Linked DNA regions of Homo sapiens. The protein of the gene in region 2 purifies or fractionates together with the protein of the main gene of each other region. This does not show direct contact. Each region holds a gene or a part of one and is shown on either strand. Other genes may lie near its edges.

Region 1 (4,289 bases), on a different chromosome or scaffold from region 2:
TCGTATGTGACTGAGTCAGTGCCAGTTTATCGATGGTATCTTATTACTTATTACTCTTACTCACTCTATTACCCAACCTCCTCTTTTATTACAAGATTATCCCTAAATCCACACTTCAGTGATGTATTGTTAGGGTCTGGGACACTCCAGTGGGGGAGAGTTGTGGAAACGGAGCTATTGCACTCTGAGTAAATGCTCTCCACCTGGATCGGTCAGGCTCATCTGCCTTGCTTTCTTCCATTTGGCCACTCAGAGACACAGACATCAGGATGCAAATGAAATGTGGGTAGGCCAGGTGAAATTACCTGTAAAAATAGATACGTTTTTTCTCCGAAGAGCTTGTTGGCGATCTTCAGCTCATATGCATCAGTGGATTTGTTGAATTCAGTCAGAAGCTTTTGAAACTGGTGATGAACATTTCCTGACCTATCAACCTTCAAACATCAAAAAAGGAGATCATTCAATTGCTGTATCAATGTAAATACTAAACCCATGCTAAGTCTGTTAGATCAGTCCCTAATGGCTGGTAGTCTCAATGAGGACCTTTGAGCTTATTCCCTGATACTTGGTGTATTTCACCTCAAATACCCTTCAAAATCCACCTTATGTTTCACTTCTTCCAGGAAATTCTTCTTGCTCTAATGTACTGCAATCTTTTCTCTTCTGAACTATAGATGCAGCACTGTCTACCACTGGATTTTGTCCTTGTTGGTTTAAAGGGTTAGGTTTAGCTTCCCAGTTAAACTCTCAGCTCCTTAAAGGCAAGGACCATATTTCACTTCTAACAGTCATCAAGGATATGAGTATGTTGAAGGTTGGATATTTTAAATAGATTATGCCAGGAAGCCCTGTTATACCTGTTGGTGCTGTTATCTTGTAGGACACATTGACTGATCTGTGACTGTTTCCTCATGATGGTCATTCTCTGCACGTAAGAAGAGTGTGTGCCAGGTACATGGCTAAGGACTTTACATGGGTAACTTTAAGTCTTTAGTTCAATTCAGGTGAAAACAAGAAAGCTCAGAGAATGGAAAGTAAACCTCTTCATAGAGACATAAATTAGAAGTGCCACGTTTTGAACCTAAGCCTGTTTAAATCTAGAAACTTCTACTTTCCAGCAAAGCATTTTGCACTATTAAGGCTCTAAACCAATATATTCCATAGCAATCATTTTCCAAAATATAGTTGGACTTGTGCTTATTCCTCTTTATCTCATTAATGACTCAATGAAAATTAAATATTTTGCAACATTATTGTGATTAGTATAATTATAGCTATTTTATAATAATAATAACATTTATTATGACATTTTATGGGCAAGGCAATGTTGTAAACATTTGCATGTATTTGCATGTATTGAGTCAGATTTCTTATTACCCTTAGTTTTCTGGGATGAGGTCACTGGGACTCTGAGCAGTTGTGTCCTGCTCATGTTCACCATTTGTGAAGAGCAAAGCTGGAGTCTGAACCTAGCCTATCCTGATCCAGACCTATGCTCTGAGGTACAGTGCTGACTGTCTTTCAGTAACGAAGAAAGGAGGAATAATAATTATGTGCCATGAAATGCCAACCCACTCTGTATGTCTCAATCTTTGTGTCCAAGATTTTCCCTAAAAATGGCCTTTTCTTAGTTTCTGTGAAGTTCCAGGTTCAAACTATGACCTGTTCGGGGATCTAAAGCTGAACCATAGTGCTCTGTGACTCACATGATATGTTGCAGCTTTTCCTGTGGTGTTCTCTGTGACTTGATCAAAGTGAAGAACCTGGAAGAGACATGAAGCGGGACAAGAAAACTTTACTCAAAAGATCTGTTTAAGTCAGTGGTCTCACAGTTACGGGAATTCCTGCTCAGCCCCCTGTGCTACCCATCAGACCACCACATCTATTACCATCTGCGTGCTAGCCGACGGAACCAGAGAAAAACTGCAACAGGACAACATAATGATGCTGATAGCTACCTTCTTAATCTGTTGTGCAGTGTTGTCTTTGGCTCCTAAGAGGACCATCCCTAATGCTGATGTGATGCTGATAGGGGAATAGAAGATGTTGTTCTCTTTTGATTTTCTGAACTGTTGGAACAGGTCGAACATGAACTTGGTGTTGGCTTCACTGAGTGAATTCATGGTGAACTCGATGTGATCTGGAACTCCTGGAAAAGCATCAGATTCCTGTCAGAATGACTTTAATAAATGGAATGGTATTTTGTAGTACAATTTTCTTAAAGAAATTATATATCTGTGTTGTGAGATTTTGACATTTAAAGTTTTCCTCATCTTATTTTTAACGTTTCAATCTTTCTACAATGTGCATATATTAAATATATTAATGTCTTAATTAGAAGCCTCACAAAATTAGTGTTTTTAAAGACTACTGTAAATAAGTAATAGACCCTCTTTCCTTCATTGCTGGCTACACTAGGGCTAGGTAGGAAGGCTTTACAATGAATGCTAACAGGAGACCTCTGTGGATCACATCCAACCAGCTGTTAAGATGCGTCCCTGACATCTCCTTCAAGACTCTCTGGCTGCAAGGCACTCTCCCTCTGTGTTCCTAAAAGTGCCTTGGTTTACTTGGAACTAAGCAATTTAGATAAAGGACAAATCAGATGAAATAGGTATTTTAATTTTGCTCTGGCAGAATAAGTAAAATATAATCAGACAGAATGCAGGAGATGCATGATATAGAACACAGTATCATTATTATTCTCAAAAATAATTCATGTTATTAAGCTGGAGAGGCTTGAAGCTCTTACCTGTGTTCCTAGAGGAAGCAGAGGTGGGCAGAGAGGCTATGTGTGTCTGTGGAATGAAGGGTGAGATCCTGAATTTATGCCTCTCCTCTTGCTGCCTCTCCCTCTGTGGTTAGTATTTGAAGTTACTCAACTTCAGATTTCACAAGCGGGCTAACACTCACCTTTATGAATACGAAAATTTATGACAAAGGACAGGATTACAGTTCTACCATTGTACCTCCTTTTTAATCTATAGGGAAAAAATAAGAATGCAAGTCAGCAGTCACCGGCTCATGTGAAATACATGTAGGTGCCTTTCTAATGCCAATGAGAATAAGTTTAGAATTCCAATTTCCTCTCATTTGTTTCAACTCCATCCCTTTGTATTCTACTCCAGCTGTAAAACAAAAACAAAAACAAACAAACAAAAACCCCACCATTCTTTTCTTGGATTTTGCATTGTCTTTTAGGCATACTTCGAATACCAAAGAACTAAAAAGCTTACATTTCCTGTTTTTCAGTTCTGAAAGTTTTTGTCATCCTATGAATTTCCTTAGTAATTTTTCTGTATAACAAGGAATATAGTGCTAATTCTAAGTCCAAAGAGATAGTGAAGAAGTGTACTTCAGTATCTTATAGCATACTATGGAGAATAGGATTCTATTGCCTTCTCCTGAATGCTCAGCTTTGGCAGTGATCCTACCAGTCACTTCCTGTGCCCCTTACAACCATCCCAGATGGTTTTCTGTTGCATAGGCTCAGTGAGAAAGTTATCTGCCTTGCTGAGTGATATGGTTTGGCTGTGTTCCCACCCAAATCTCAACTTGAATTGTATCTACCAGAATTTCCACATGTTGTTGGAGGGACCCAGGTAGAGGTAATTGAATCATGGGGGCCGGTCTTTCTTGTGCTATTCTCATGATAGTTAATAAGTCTCAGGAGATCCAATGGGTTTATTAGGGGTTTCTTCTTTTGCTTCTTCCTCATTTTCTCTTGCAGCCACCATGTAAGAATAACTTTTGCCTCCTACCGTGATTCTGAGGCCTCCCCAATCACGTGGAACTCTAAGTCCAATTAAACCTCTTTTACTTCCTAATCTCAGGTATGTCTTTATCAGCAGCATGAAAACAGACTAACACATTGAGTTAACAGGCTGACACTGAGAAGAGCAATTGAAACAGACGGGCCATTTTGAATGTCAGCTTTCTAATTTTTCATTTAAAAATTAAGCAGAAAAAGAAGTTGCTTGACCTGTCAGGATCACAACGTTTCTTGGTGGTCCTTCCATTTAGCACCTGGCTTCAGACTCATTCCAGTGTTTCCTCTGGAATATCTTGTAATCTGAAGAATGTCTGTGGCCAGGGAGAGGGTTGTTGTCCAAGGCCATTTAATCCAATATCTCCCTGACAACCAGAGTGGGGGGCTGTTTGTTTTGTGGACCCCCTTTTTTAACATATAATTTATATGCCACAAATTCAACTGTACAATTCAATGATTTTATTATATTCACAAAGTTGTGCTATCACCATCATGATCTCGTTCCACAACAATTTCACTA
Region 2 (3,500 bases):
GGTTCTTTTTTCCTGCCATCTGCCATAAGCATGAAGAGATTTTTCTCTGATATTCACTGTGAGGGTCTGGTTGAGCTCCTGGAGATAAAACTTACAAAAATGTGCCCCTGCTCAGTGATTAAGTGCCCTGGAGTTTTTACCTCTCAGAGTTGTCCACACTGACCTTCCAGCAGTTCATCAATTACAGTTTAGGTTTTTCTCCCCTGGAACTGGTTCCCACAGAGGCTTCTGCTCCACTAAGTTGTGATTCTCTGATTCTACCTGTTTGTCTCTCCAATTTTGGGGAGAATGGTTTGCCCTGTGACCTCACTTCTCTGACAGATCTAAGGAGAGTTGTTGATTTTTCAGTTTGTTCAGCTTTTTACTTGTTACTGTAGAGTCTAGAGGGGCAACTTGTAGACTACAGACTTCTTGGAAACTAGAAGTCTGACCTACTAATTTTTTGTCTCCTGGTTGTCACTTGAATCTACTTCTTTCTGTGTCCAAAATTACCATCCATGGAATCAGAATCTTTGCTTAGGGATGGTAATAGTTGGAGGCACTGGGGTTGAGAGTAAAGATTGTTGTTGAATTTAGTCACACAGTTCCTCTGTAGGTTATAATGATAACAAAGTGAATTTTTTTTTAACATGACCATATAAGAAGATTGATAAGCAGATGCTTTCTCCCTGTGAAGTCACACAGGACACTGGTGGATCTTCTTATTTGGAATGGCCCTTGATGCTCATGGCCCATTCCTATATGTCTTCTCAATGGTAAAAATCCTTCTCTGTGAGTGGATCTGAATTTTCAGGCCAGCCAAAAAAGTTTTGGAGCTAAGTTTGGCAAACTCAGTAATTTAATGAAGATAGTTGTTATTATTTTGGTTCAAAAAAATAAGACTCAGAGCAGTATATCTAGTCATAAGTTTTTGTATAAAAAAGAGGGAAGCTAAGAATACACATTTACATTTGCTTGTATGTAGAAAGAAACTCTAAAAGAATGCAGAAGAGCATAGTTACCTGTGATGAGGAGAGGGGAAAAGAACGGGGTCGATGGGATGAAGATGGATGGAGGTGGGGCATTTTCACTGAATATACCCATGTATGTATTTTCTGTTTTTAAACCATGTGAGTCTATTATCTATTGAAAAAAATTGAAATATGTTTTTAAAAGTTAGGTGTTTCTATAAAGTATTGAGATTGTTATATTTTGGAGGTTTTATAGCCTGGGTAACACCTTGACCTCTCTACCTGTGAACTTGGAACCAGCTGAGAAATAGAGATAAGAAATTAGCTGTGTGATTGATGAAGTTGATTGGGTAATGTTATTTTAGTTGATTACTCCCTTTTATTTTAAATATCTATATCTCTGAGTACCTTTTTTTTTTTTGCCTGAAATCCAACATTGAAATGAAAATTGCCACTTCCTTTTTCCTTTTGAGTTAGAGTGCCTTGTCTTTTGCATGTCCTTCTATTGTAAGATTAACAACACGTACTTTTATCTCATTTTAAAATTCCATCTAATTTCTTTTTTTGAGACAAGTTCTCACTCCATTGTCCAGGCTGGAGTGCAGTGGCATGATCATAGGTCACTGGTACTTCAAACTTCTGGGCTCAAGTGATCCTTCTGCCTCAGCCTCTTGAGTAGCTGGGGGTACAGGCATGTGCCACCATGCCTGGTTAATTTTATTTATTTATTTATTTATTATAGAGGTGAGGGTCTGCTATGTTGCCCAGGCTGGTCTTGAACCCTTGGCATCAAGTGATTCCCTTGCCTCAGCCTCCCAAAATGCTAGAATTACAGGCATGAGCCACTGCACCCAGCCTCCATCTGTAATTCTTTGTCCTTTTTAAAAATTTTATTTTAAAAATATCTTTCTCTTTCAGCAGAGATATTTAGAGCAATTGCATTTGGGGTTATAATTTTATATTTTTTTCCTGTTTTTATGCCTCCCTTTGCCTTTTAATATACAACTTGATAACTTTTATCTTTTTTTGATCATTTAAAAAGTAAGCAACCTATTTTTGATGCTTATGGGTTATTTTTTAATGTTACACAAATTTTACATAATTTATCTCTTTATGAATCAAAAATGTTTTGAACAGTGGGACTCTCATTGAAACACTTGGATCGCCACCCTGTGTTCAACAGATGGTACTCATTTGGTGGTATAAATGCTGGTCTACCTACCAAACTCACTCTGATGGCTTTCTCATCCTATTTCAAGCCATTTTGGATCTTAAAAGAGCCTGTTAGCCTCTGGACTGCAGTTGTACTCAAAATACCAAAGTGGGTCTTACTGAATTGTTGATTGGGAATTTTGACTATTTGTGTGTAGGGACTGGAATTGCATACAGAAGAGACCAGGCCCTTAAAGACAGGGGAAGAAGCTCAGAGCTTCCAGCTGCAGCCAGTGGATCCCTGGCCTGAGGGACAGTCCCAGAAGAAGGGGGTGAAGAATACATGCCCTGACCTTCCCAATCACCTAAATGCCGAGGTGGCACCACAGCCTTTGAAAGAGAGTGGTGAGTACATCTGAGAACATTAGGGAATGAGGCCTTCTGCAGGGGAGAGGGATGGGAGGTGAGGAAGGGTGCATGGGGAAGAAGGATGTGCAGAATTCAAAGCAAGGGATAGGCTGCAGTGTGGTGGGCACACTTACTGAGAAGTAAGCAAGCCTCGTAAAGAGGCTGTGCCTATCGATGATGTCATCATGCCCTGCTGTAGCTGGAGTCCTGCAGCAGGTGCAGGCTGGGACAGGGGTGGGTGGTGATCACAGGAGGTCAGGGCTGGCATCTCCCACATGGCACACCACTCACAGCAGCTTAGGAGCTACACACTCTAGAAGGGAAGTAAAGGGGAAGTCTGCACTGGCCATAGGGATAGCCCTAGCTTGATCCAAGTGTTACTTTTGGAAAGCCAATCTCAAAGGGAGGTGATTTTTTGGGAACCAGAGCTTGGGTTTCAGTGACTTTTTCTTTTCCTCAGCTGTCCTCACTCCCCGAGTCCCTACTCTCCCAAAGATGGGGAGCGTTGGAGATTGGGAGGTGACAGCTGAGTCCCAGGTAAGCTGTTACTCGTTCTTCCTTTCCTGTCATTGCTGCTCCTGTGCTCTTGCCCCCACAGTGTTCCTCCTCTCTCTCCATGACCTCTGCTCAGCAAAAGGGCATGAGGCCCAGGGTGTTAGCCTTTGCCCTTCACCCCCAGCCTGCTGGGCCCCAAACATCCCCAAACACATGTATGTACCAAATGGCCATCCTGCTCCTTATGATGCCAGCTTCACACATGGTATCCCTCTGTTCCCATCATCTTTCCTGGGAGCCTGCTAGGGTTCCTAGGCTGTTGTCAAAGGTCAGTGATGTTTGGGGTCCTTGTCTTGTGCATCTCGCAGGAAGCCCTGGGCCCTGGCAAACATGCTGAGAAGGAGCTCTGTAAAGACCCCCCAGGAGACGACTGTGGGAACAGCGTGTGCCTGGGTAAGGAGACGTACCCTCTGAAGGTGATGTTGTCATGCTTCT
Region 3 (3,500 bases), on a different chromosome or scaffold from region 2:
TACTTCTGGTTCAGGTCCGAGTCCACCTTGCGCAGCAGCTCCTGAGCGTCCTTCACGTCTTCGTGAAACTAGGGGAGAAGGTGGCTCTGTTACAGCCAGGAAACCACTAGAAGCACCTGGGCTTCTGTCGGAGGCTTCAAGCTCATCCCTCAGGCGGGGCTGGGCCTCCGGTTCACCTGGAGTCCAGCATGGGACCCTGTGCTGAGCCTGAGGCTCCTCTGCGTGGAGACAGCCCCACCCTCCCTGAGCTGGCTCCTTAGGGGCCTCACTGGGAAAAGCCAGGTCCCTTCCCACCCATCCATGAGATGCCACCTCTGTGACATGTTTTCTTGGATGTATCAGTAAGTCTTGAGGTGTCTTTGATTCAGTTCCTCTCTCTGTACTAGGAACATCCAGACTTAATACTATAGCTTCTTTCTAGGTTTTGATAATAGCCTCCCCTTTTTGTTCTCGAAAATTCTCTTGCCCATTCTTCAGTCTATCAACTCTTGGTTCACTGTCAGCTATCCCCTGGGCTGAGCACCTGGGCTGCAGCCATAAACAGGACCTGAAGCCCCCACTGTGCGGCTCAGACAGGGAATGAGGAGTGACACGGCGTCGCCCACATCCAGCTTTCCCCAGACACCTCAATCCTAAGAATTACCCGCAGCTTCTTAAGAACTCTCATTCCTCTGGAAACAGACAAGTGTCCAGCCACAGATGAGTGGATAAACACAGTGGTCTAGCCATACAATAGGATATGATTCAGCCATAAAAAGGGGTGAAGCACTGAAAATGCTACAACACGGATGAACCCGGAAAACATGATGCTCAGTGAGAGAAGCCAGACACAAAAGGGCAGAGATTGCATGATCCCACTGATTCTTCATATTCGTTCTAGGTGTGACACTTCTGGAACAGGCAAGTCCATAGAGACAGCAAGAAGACCAAAGGTGACCTGGGGCTGGGGGAGTGGGAATGGAAAACTTACTGCCTAATGAGTACGGGGTTGTTTTTTTTTTTTTTTTTTGAGGCGGAGACTCACTCTGTCGCCCAGGCTGGAGTGCAATGGCGCGATCTCAGCTCACTGCAACCTCTGCCTCCTGGGTTCAAGCAGTTCTCCTGCCTCAGCCTCCCATCTGGGACTACAGATATGGGCCACCACACCTGGCTAACTTTTGTATTTTAGTAGAGATGGGGTTTCATCATGTTGGCCAGGCTGGTCTTGAACTCCTGACCTCAGGTGATCCAGTCGCCTCGGCTTCCCAGAGTGCTGGAATTACAGACATGAGCTACCGTGCCCAGCCAGGGTATAGGGTTTCTGTTTGGGGTGATGGAAAGTTTTGCAAGTAGATGGTGGTGATGGTTGCATAACATTGCGAATGCAATGAATGCCACTGAATTGTACACTTAAAAATGCAAACTGGCCGGGTGTGGTGGCTCACACCTGTAATCCCAACACTTTAGGAGGCCGAGGCGGGAGGATCACCTGAGGTCAGGAGTTCGAGACCAGCCTGACCAACATGGCGAAACCCCATCTTTACTGAAAATACAAAAATTAGCTGGGTGTGGTGGTGGGCACTTGTAATCCCAGCTGTTCAGGAGGCTGAGGCAGGAGAATCACTTGAACCCAGGAGGTGGAGGTTGTAGTGAGCCGAGATGGCACGACTGCACTCCAGCCTGGGTGACAGGGCAAGACTCTCTCAAAAAAAAAAAAAAAAAAAAAAAAGGCAAATTTTGTTTTATGTATCTGCATGTATATTATAGATTTTACCAAAATTAAAACCCTACACACTCACCCTGGGCCCCATGTGACCTGGGGAATCAGACTCTGGCCCTGGTCCCCAGGGAAGTTGGACAGGGGCCGGCAAGCTTGGGACATGTCTGCACACGCCATCAGAAGCATGGGTGCTGGGGGCCTGGGATGGCTGCCCCGCAAGGCTCCTGGACCAAGGAGCACGAGGCCACACATGAGCCAGGTAGGCACTGAGCGCTCTCAGAGAGTAGCACCCCCGGTGCTGGGGGGACTCCCAGGAAAGGTAAGTACCTGGTGGTAGTCCTCCATGTACTTGAGGTGGCTCTCCTCGCAGATGAGCAGGTTCAGGTACTCCTTCCAGTCTGCGTGCACAGCCTCCATGTGCGCCTGCCAGGAAGAGAAGGGGCCGGTCACCACTGGGCAGGTACTGCAGACACCAAGGGAGGGACTGCTGGGATATTGGGCTGGGGCATGGCGGGGGAGGGAGGCATCTGGCATCTGTCTGGGTGTGGCTACCACAGGGGTAGCCAGCTTCTGCTCAGGAGTGGGAGGAGGAGAGAGGGGTCACGTCAAGGAGCCAAACAGGGATGCCACATACGGATGCCCAGGCTGTGCAGTGCACAAAGGGCAAGTGGGGGCTGTGGTGCCTTCGGCAAATCTGTACAAAGGCACTGTCATGGACCGAACAGTGTCCCACCAAATCCATGACCCTGGCCAGGCATGGTGGCTCACACCTGTAATCGCAGCACTTTGGGAGGCCGAGGCGGGTGGATCACCTGAGGTCAGGAGTTTGAGACTAGCCTGGCCCACATGATGAGACCCTGTCTCTACTAAAAATACAAAAATTAGCTGGGCATGATGGTGTGCGCCTGTAGTCCCAGCTACTTGGGAGGCTGAGGCAGGAGAATTGCTTGAACCCGGGAGGTGGAGGTTGCAGTGAGCCAAGATTACACCATCGCACTCCAGCCTGGGCAACAACAGCGAAACTCCATCTCAGGCGGGGTTGGTGGCATTGTGGGGGTTGGGAAGAATGCGACCTTATTTGGGAATAAGATCTTTGCAGATGTCATTAGTTAAGGATCCTGAAATTAGGGTGAGCCCTAAATCCACTGACTGATATCCTTATAAGAAGAGAGGATACAGAGAGACATGGGGAGAGAAGGCCATGTGAAGACGGAGGAAGGGACTGGAATGATGCAGCCACAAGCCAAGGGCTGTTGGCAACCCCCAGAAGCCGGAAGAGCAAGGAAGGCACATGTCCTGGAGCTTCCAGAGGGAATGAGGCCCTAAGACACCTTGATTTCAGACTTACAGCCCACAGACCTCTGAGAGAATGAATTTCTGTTGTTTAAAGCCACTAAGTTTGTTTTAACTTGTTGCAGCAACTCTAGGAAACTAATACAGACCCCACAGGGGCTTCAGAAGTCCAGGGGCTGAGGGCAGAAGTGTCAACGGATCAGGATAAATGGAGGAGGCAGAGTCAGACACAGCAAGAAAGAGACAGACAGACACAAGATGCAGCTTGCAGGACCCCCAGCTCCGGGGTCTGCCCGAGCTCCAGGCGGCCCACAGGCAGCGGCCAACCAGAAGCCACCCTGGGGGAGGTGTCTGGTCTCGGGGTGCATGAACCTCAATGGAGTTCCTCCCGGGGTGCTCGGCCGCCAGCAGCTGGTCGCCCTCGCTGTGCAGTTTGTTGATTCTCTCCTCTTTGGCCTCCAGGTTCCGGTTGATGAAATTCTGCAGTGGGGGGCAGTGGAGGGGCCTC
Region 4 (4,130 bases), on a different chromosome or scaffold from region 2:
CCTTCCTTCCGATGCCCTTTTCATGCCTGAGGCCAGACTCTCAGCTGTTTCCCCTCCAACCCGAGCCAATATGTCAACACTTGGGGCTTCAGGTTGGGGCTTAGGAGGCCCCATGTCGGGAGGGCAGGAAGGATGAGGGCCTGGCCCCAGCCCAGGTTCTGGCTCACAGGCTCCTGCTGCCCTGGGTCTTCGGCCCCTCCCCGTGGCTGCCTCAACCGGCTTTTCAGGAGACACTGCGTCCTGTTCCAGCTCGTGGCAATCAGCCCCCTGCCCTTGCCCAAGGGCTGGGAGGCAGGAGGTCTGGGTTCTGCGACAGGAATGGGATCCTGCCTCCAAAATCTGCGGCACTCCACAAGGGACTCTATGCTGCCCTGGCGACCCAGGCGCCCTTCCCTCCAGCACCCTGTGAGACCCAGACTCGGGCTCGGAGTCTCTTTCCTTGGCCTGTTCGAATCCATCCATTTGTCCAGTCAATAAATATTTACTGAACCCCAGGCAGTGTTCAAGAAGCTAGGAATACAGCAGTGATCAACACGACCAATTTACATTGCTAGTAGGTGAGACAGGCAATAAAAAATAAAGGTAATTTCAGATTTTTTTTTTCTGTGAAAACAAAAGGGTGATACTACAGAGTATAATTAATGCCATGTTATGGTCAGGAGAGGTTTTCTTGCGAAGTTGGCATTTAAGTCAAGTACGGATGAGGAGGAGCCAGCCACGTGAAGATCTGGGTTCTGCATTCCAGGCAGAGAGAGGAGCATGTGCAAAGGCCCTGCAGCAGGAATGAGCTTGGTGTGTTTGTGGAACAGGGAGAAGGCCTGTGTGGCTGGAATGGAATGAGTGAGGGCAGGGGCTGGCCCACAAGAACGAGGTCTGATGACTCCTTCATCCCACCTAGTGTTCTCCCCTCTCCAGACGGTGCCTCCCATCATTCTAGCCCCTCACTGCCTGGGGAGCTGGAGGCTTAGATGCCTGAGAGGAGTGAGGTGTTGAAGAATTGCCTGCATCCCAGGGATGGAGCATGGTGGAAGGTGGGTTTGCGAGAGAGGAGGCCTGGACAGTGGGTGAGGAATGAAAGAGGAGGTGGTTGGAAGGGCAGACACCCATCTCTGGGGTGGAGGGCAAGGAGCAAAGATGCCAGAGTTCTTCTCCATCCATGACTCACCCTCTCTTCCTCCTCCTCTCCATTGCTCAACTCCAAATCTCCCTGGGAAACACCTCCTTGACTGAAGACCAACTCAGTGCCTCACAGGGGTAATTGAGTCATGAGGGGTGGAGAAGAGGGCGAGAGGGAGAGAGGATAAATAGCAGCGTGGCTTCCCTGGCTCCTCTCTGCATCCTTCCCGACCTTCCCAGCAATATGCATCTTGCACGTCTGGTCGGCTCCTGCTCCCTCCTTCTGCTACTGGGGGCCCTGTCTGGATGGGCGGCCAGCGATGACCCCATTGAGAAGGTCATTGAAGGGATCAACCGAGGGCTGAGCAATGCAGAGAGAGAGGTGGGCAAGGCCCTGGATGGCATCAACAGTGGAATCACGCATGCCGGAAGGGAAGTGGAGAAGGTTTTCAACGGACTTAGCAACATGGGGAGCCACACCGGCAAGGAGTTGGACAAAGGCGTCCAGGGGCTCAACCACGGCATGGACAAGGTTGCCCATGAGATCAACCATGGTATTGGACAAGCAGGAAAGGAAGCAGAGAAGCTTGGCCATGGGGTCAACAACGCTGCTGGACAGGTTGGGAAGGAGGCAGACAAACTGATCCATCATGGGGTCCATCACGGGGCCAACCAGGCGGGAAGTGAGGCAGGGAAGTTTGGCCAGGGAGTCGACAATGCTGCAGGGCAGGCTGGAAATGAGGCTGGGAGGTTTGGCCAGGGAGTCCACCATGCTGCAGGGCAGGCCGGAAATGAGGCTGGGAGGTTTGGCCAGGGAGTCCACCATGCTGCAGGGCAGGCCGGAAATGAGGCTGGGAGATTTGGCCAGGGGGCCCACCATGGTCTCAGTGAGGGCTGGAAGGAGACAGAGAAGTTTGGCCAGGGGATCCACCATGCTGCCGGTCAGGTTGGGAAGGAGGCAGAGAAGTTTGGCCAGGGGGCCCACCATGCTGCGGGGCAGGCCGGAAATGAGGCAGGGAGATTTGGCCAGGGGGTCCACCATGGTCTCAGTGAGGGCTGGAAGGAGACAGAGAAGTTTGGCCAGGGGGTCCACCATACTGCTGGTCAGGTTGGGAAGGAGGCAGAGAAGTTTGGCCAGGGGGCCCACCATGCTGCGGGGCAGGCCGGAAATGAGGCAGGGAGATTTGGCCAGGGGGCCCACCATGCTGCGGGGCAGGCCGGAAATGAGGCTGGGAGGTTTGGCCAGGGGGTCCACCATGGTCTCAGTGAGGGCTGGAAGGAGACAGAGAAGTTTGGCCAGGGGGTCCACCATGCTGCCAGTCAGTTTGGGAAGGAAACAGAGAAGCTCGGCCATGGGGTCCACCATGGGGTTAATGAGGCCTGGAAGGAAGCAGAGAAGTTTGGCCAGGGTGTCCACCATGCTGCCTCGCAGGTGGGGAAGGAGGAAGACAGAGTGGTCCAAGGCCTCCATCATGGCGTTAGTCAGGCTGGAAGGGAGGCGGGGCAGTTTGGCCACGACATTCACCACACAGCAGGGCAGGCTGGGAAAGAGGGAGACATAGCAGTTCATGGTGTCCAACCTGGGGTCCACGAGGCCGGGAAGGAGGCAGGGCAGTTTGGCCAGGGAGTTCACCATACCCTTGAACAGGCCGGGAAGGAAGCAGACAAAGCGGTCCAAGGGTTCCACACTGGGGTCCACCAGGCTGGGAAGGAAGCAGAGAAACTTGGCCAAGGGGTCAACCATGCTGCTGACCAGGCTGGAAAGGAAGTGGAGAAGCTTGGCCAAGGTGCCCACCATGCTGCTGGCCAGGCCGGGAAGGAGCTGCAGAATGCTCATAATGGGGTCAACCAAGCCAGCAAGGAGGCCAACCAGCTGCTGAATGTAGGTGAACAGGGATGGGGAGATGGGGGACAGGGGGGTTGGGGGAGGGAAAGGTTAAACCCCTGGGACATTTGGCGGGGCGGGGGGGTCCGCGTAGCCTTTGTTTGGTGAAAGAAGCTTGGGCAGCTATATCACTGGGTTCCTCCCCCTTCCCCATCTCCCTTACAAAGGAGCTGGTGGCAGCTGGTCAGATGGGGTGAGCCACCTTATCTGCAAAGCACGTATCAGACAGGGTGGCGGGCACCCTGTCCCACCTTCAGGGAGCTGCCCTCCTGGTTAAGGGGGCCTCAAGTGGGGCCCATGAAGCCCTTCCTGGGGAATGGGAAACAGTTCCTGAGATCAAGATCTAGTATAGTGCAAAGGGACTGAGTGTTGACAAAACCTGGTTAGGAGAGTGAGCATGAGGAATAGCTTTCGGAGATGAGCCTTGGCCTGTGTAATCTTTGTAACTACCCTCTGATGTGGTCAAGATGAGGCTGCTGACGCCCTGATTCTCAGATAAGGAAACAAAGGCTCAGAGAGGTTAGGGGACGTGCCAAAGTCCTGTGGCTAGTGCCCAGCTTTGGCAGAGGGCAGGCCAGGGTTCTCTTCCCCTGCACTGCCCAGCCAGGAGAGGTTTTCTGGAAGGTTTCTCTTACCCATTTATGTAGGGGGAACAGAGGCCAGGTTCAGTGGCTCATGCCTGTTAACCCCAGCACTTTGGGAGGCCGAGGCAGGTGGATCACTTGAGCTCAGGAGTTCAAGAGCAGCCTGGCCAACATGGTGAAACCCTATCTCTACTAAAAATACAAAAATTAGCCAGGTGTGGTGGCTGGCGCCTCTAATCCCAACTACTCAGAAGGCTGAGGCAGGAGAATCCCTTGAACCCGAGAAGCGGAGTTTGCAGTGAGCTGAGATTGCACCATTGCACTCCAGCCTGGGCAACAGAGTGAGACTCTGTCTCAAAAAAAATAATAATAAAATAAAATATGTAGAGGGAACAGAGACTGGAGGCAGGCAAATAGCACCACTCACAACAGAACAGGCACCAAGAAGGGAGCGTGGGGAGCAGGAGAGGGTGGACTCCTGTGCGCCCTCACTCTCCAGGCTCCATGAGGGGTCCTGGATCTGCAAGATGTGACTGGCTCAGACG

The links. The genes of interacting proteins can lie anywhere in the genome.
Region 1: the proteins of ZSCAN20 (region 2) and SERPINB3 purify together in Homo sapiens (affinity purification with mass spectrometry; 3 studies listed by BioGRID and IntAct, with this or other methods). This does not show direct contact.
Region 3: the proteins of ZSCAN20 (region 2) and PPL purify together in Homo sapiens (affinity purification with mass spectrometry; 3 studies listed by BioGRID and IntAct, with this or other methods). This does not show direct contact.
Region 4: the proteins of ZSCAN20 (region 2) and SBSN purify together in Homo sapiens (affinity purification with mass spectrometry; 3 studies listed by BioGRID and IntAct, with this or other methods). This does not show direct contact.

What each region holds. Positions count from the first base shown.
Region 1 is NC_000018.10:63,659,094-63,663,382, forward strand, and holds the start of SERPINB3 (serpin B3), read right to left. Parts: upstream 2,801-4,289; 5' UTR 2,753-2,800; intron 2,150-2,752; 5' UTR 2,124-2,149; coding exon 1,959-2,123; intron 1,764-1,958; coding exon 1,707-1,763; intron 435-1,706; coding exon 306-434; intron 1-305. UniProt on the Homo sapiens protein: May act as a papain-like cysteine protease inhibitor to modulate the host immune response against tumor cells. Also functions as an inhibitor of UV-induced apoptosis via suppression of the activity of c-Jun NH(2)-terminal kinase (JNK1).
Region 2 is NC_000001.11:33,486,145-33,489,644, forward strand, and holds part of ZSCAN20 (zinc finger and SCAN domain-containing protein 20), read left to right. Parts: intron 1-2,320; coding exon 2,321-2,507; intron 2,508-2,969; exon of another isoform or gene 2,970-2,970; coding exon 2,971-3,047; intron 3,048-3,373; coding exon 3,374-3,458; intron 3,459-3,500. UniProt on the Homo sapiens protein: May be involved in transcriptional regulation.
Region 3 is NC_000016.10:4,895,649-4,899,148, forward strand, and holds part of PPL (periplakin), read right to left. Parts: intron 3,473-3,500; coding exon 3,365-3,472; intron 2,123-3,364; coding exon 2,027-2,122; intron 933-2,026; exon of another isoform or gene 69-932; coding exon 1-68. UniProt on the Homo sapiens protein: Component of the cornified envelope of keratinocytes. May link the cornified envelope to desmosomes and intermediate filaments. May act as a localization signal in PKB/AKT-mediated signaling.
Region 4 is NC_000019.10:35,525,512-35,529,641, reverse strand, and holds the start of SBSN (suprabasin isoform 1 precursor), read left to right. Parts: upstream 1-1,330; 5' UTR 1,331-1,360; coding exon 1,361-2,998; intron 2,999-4,130.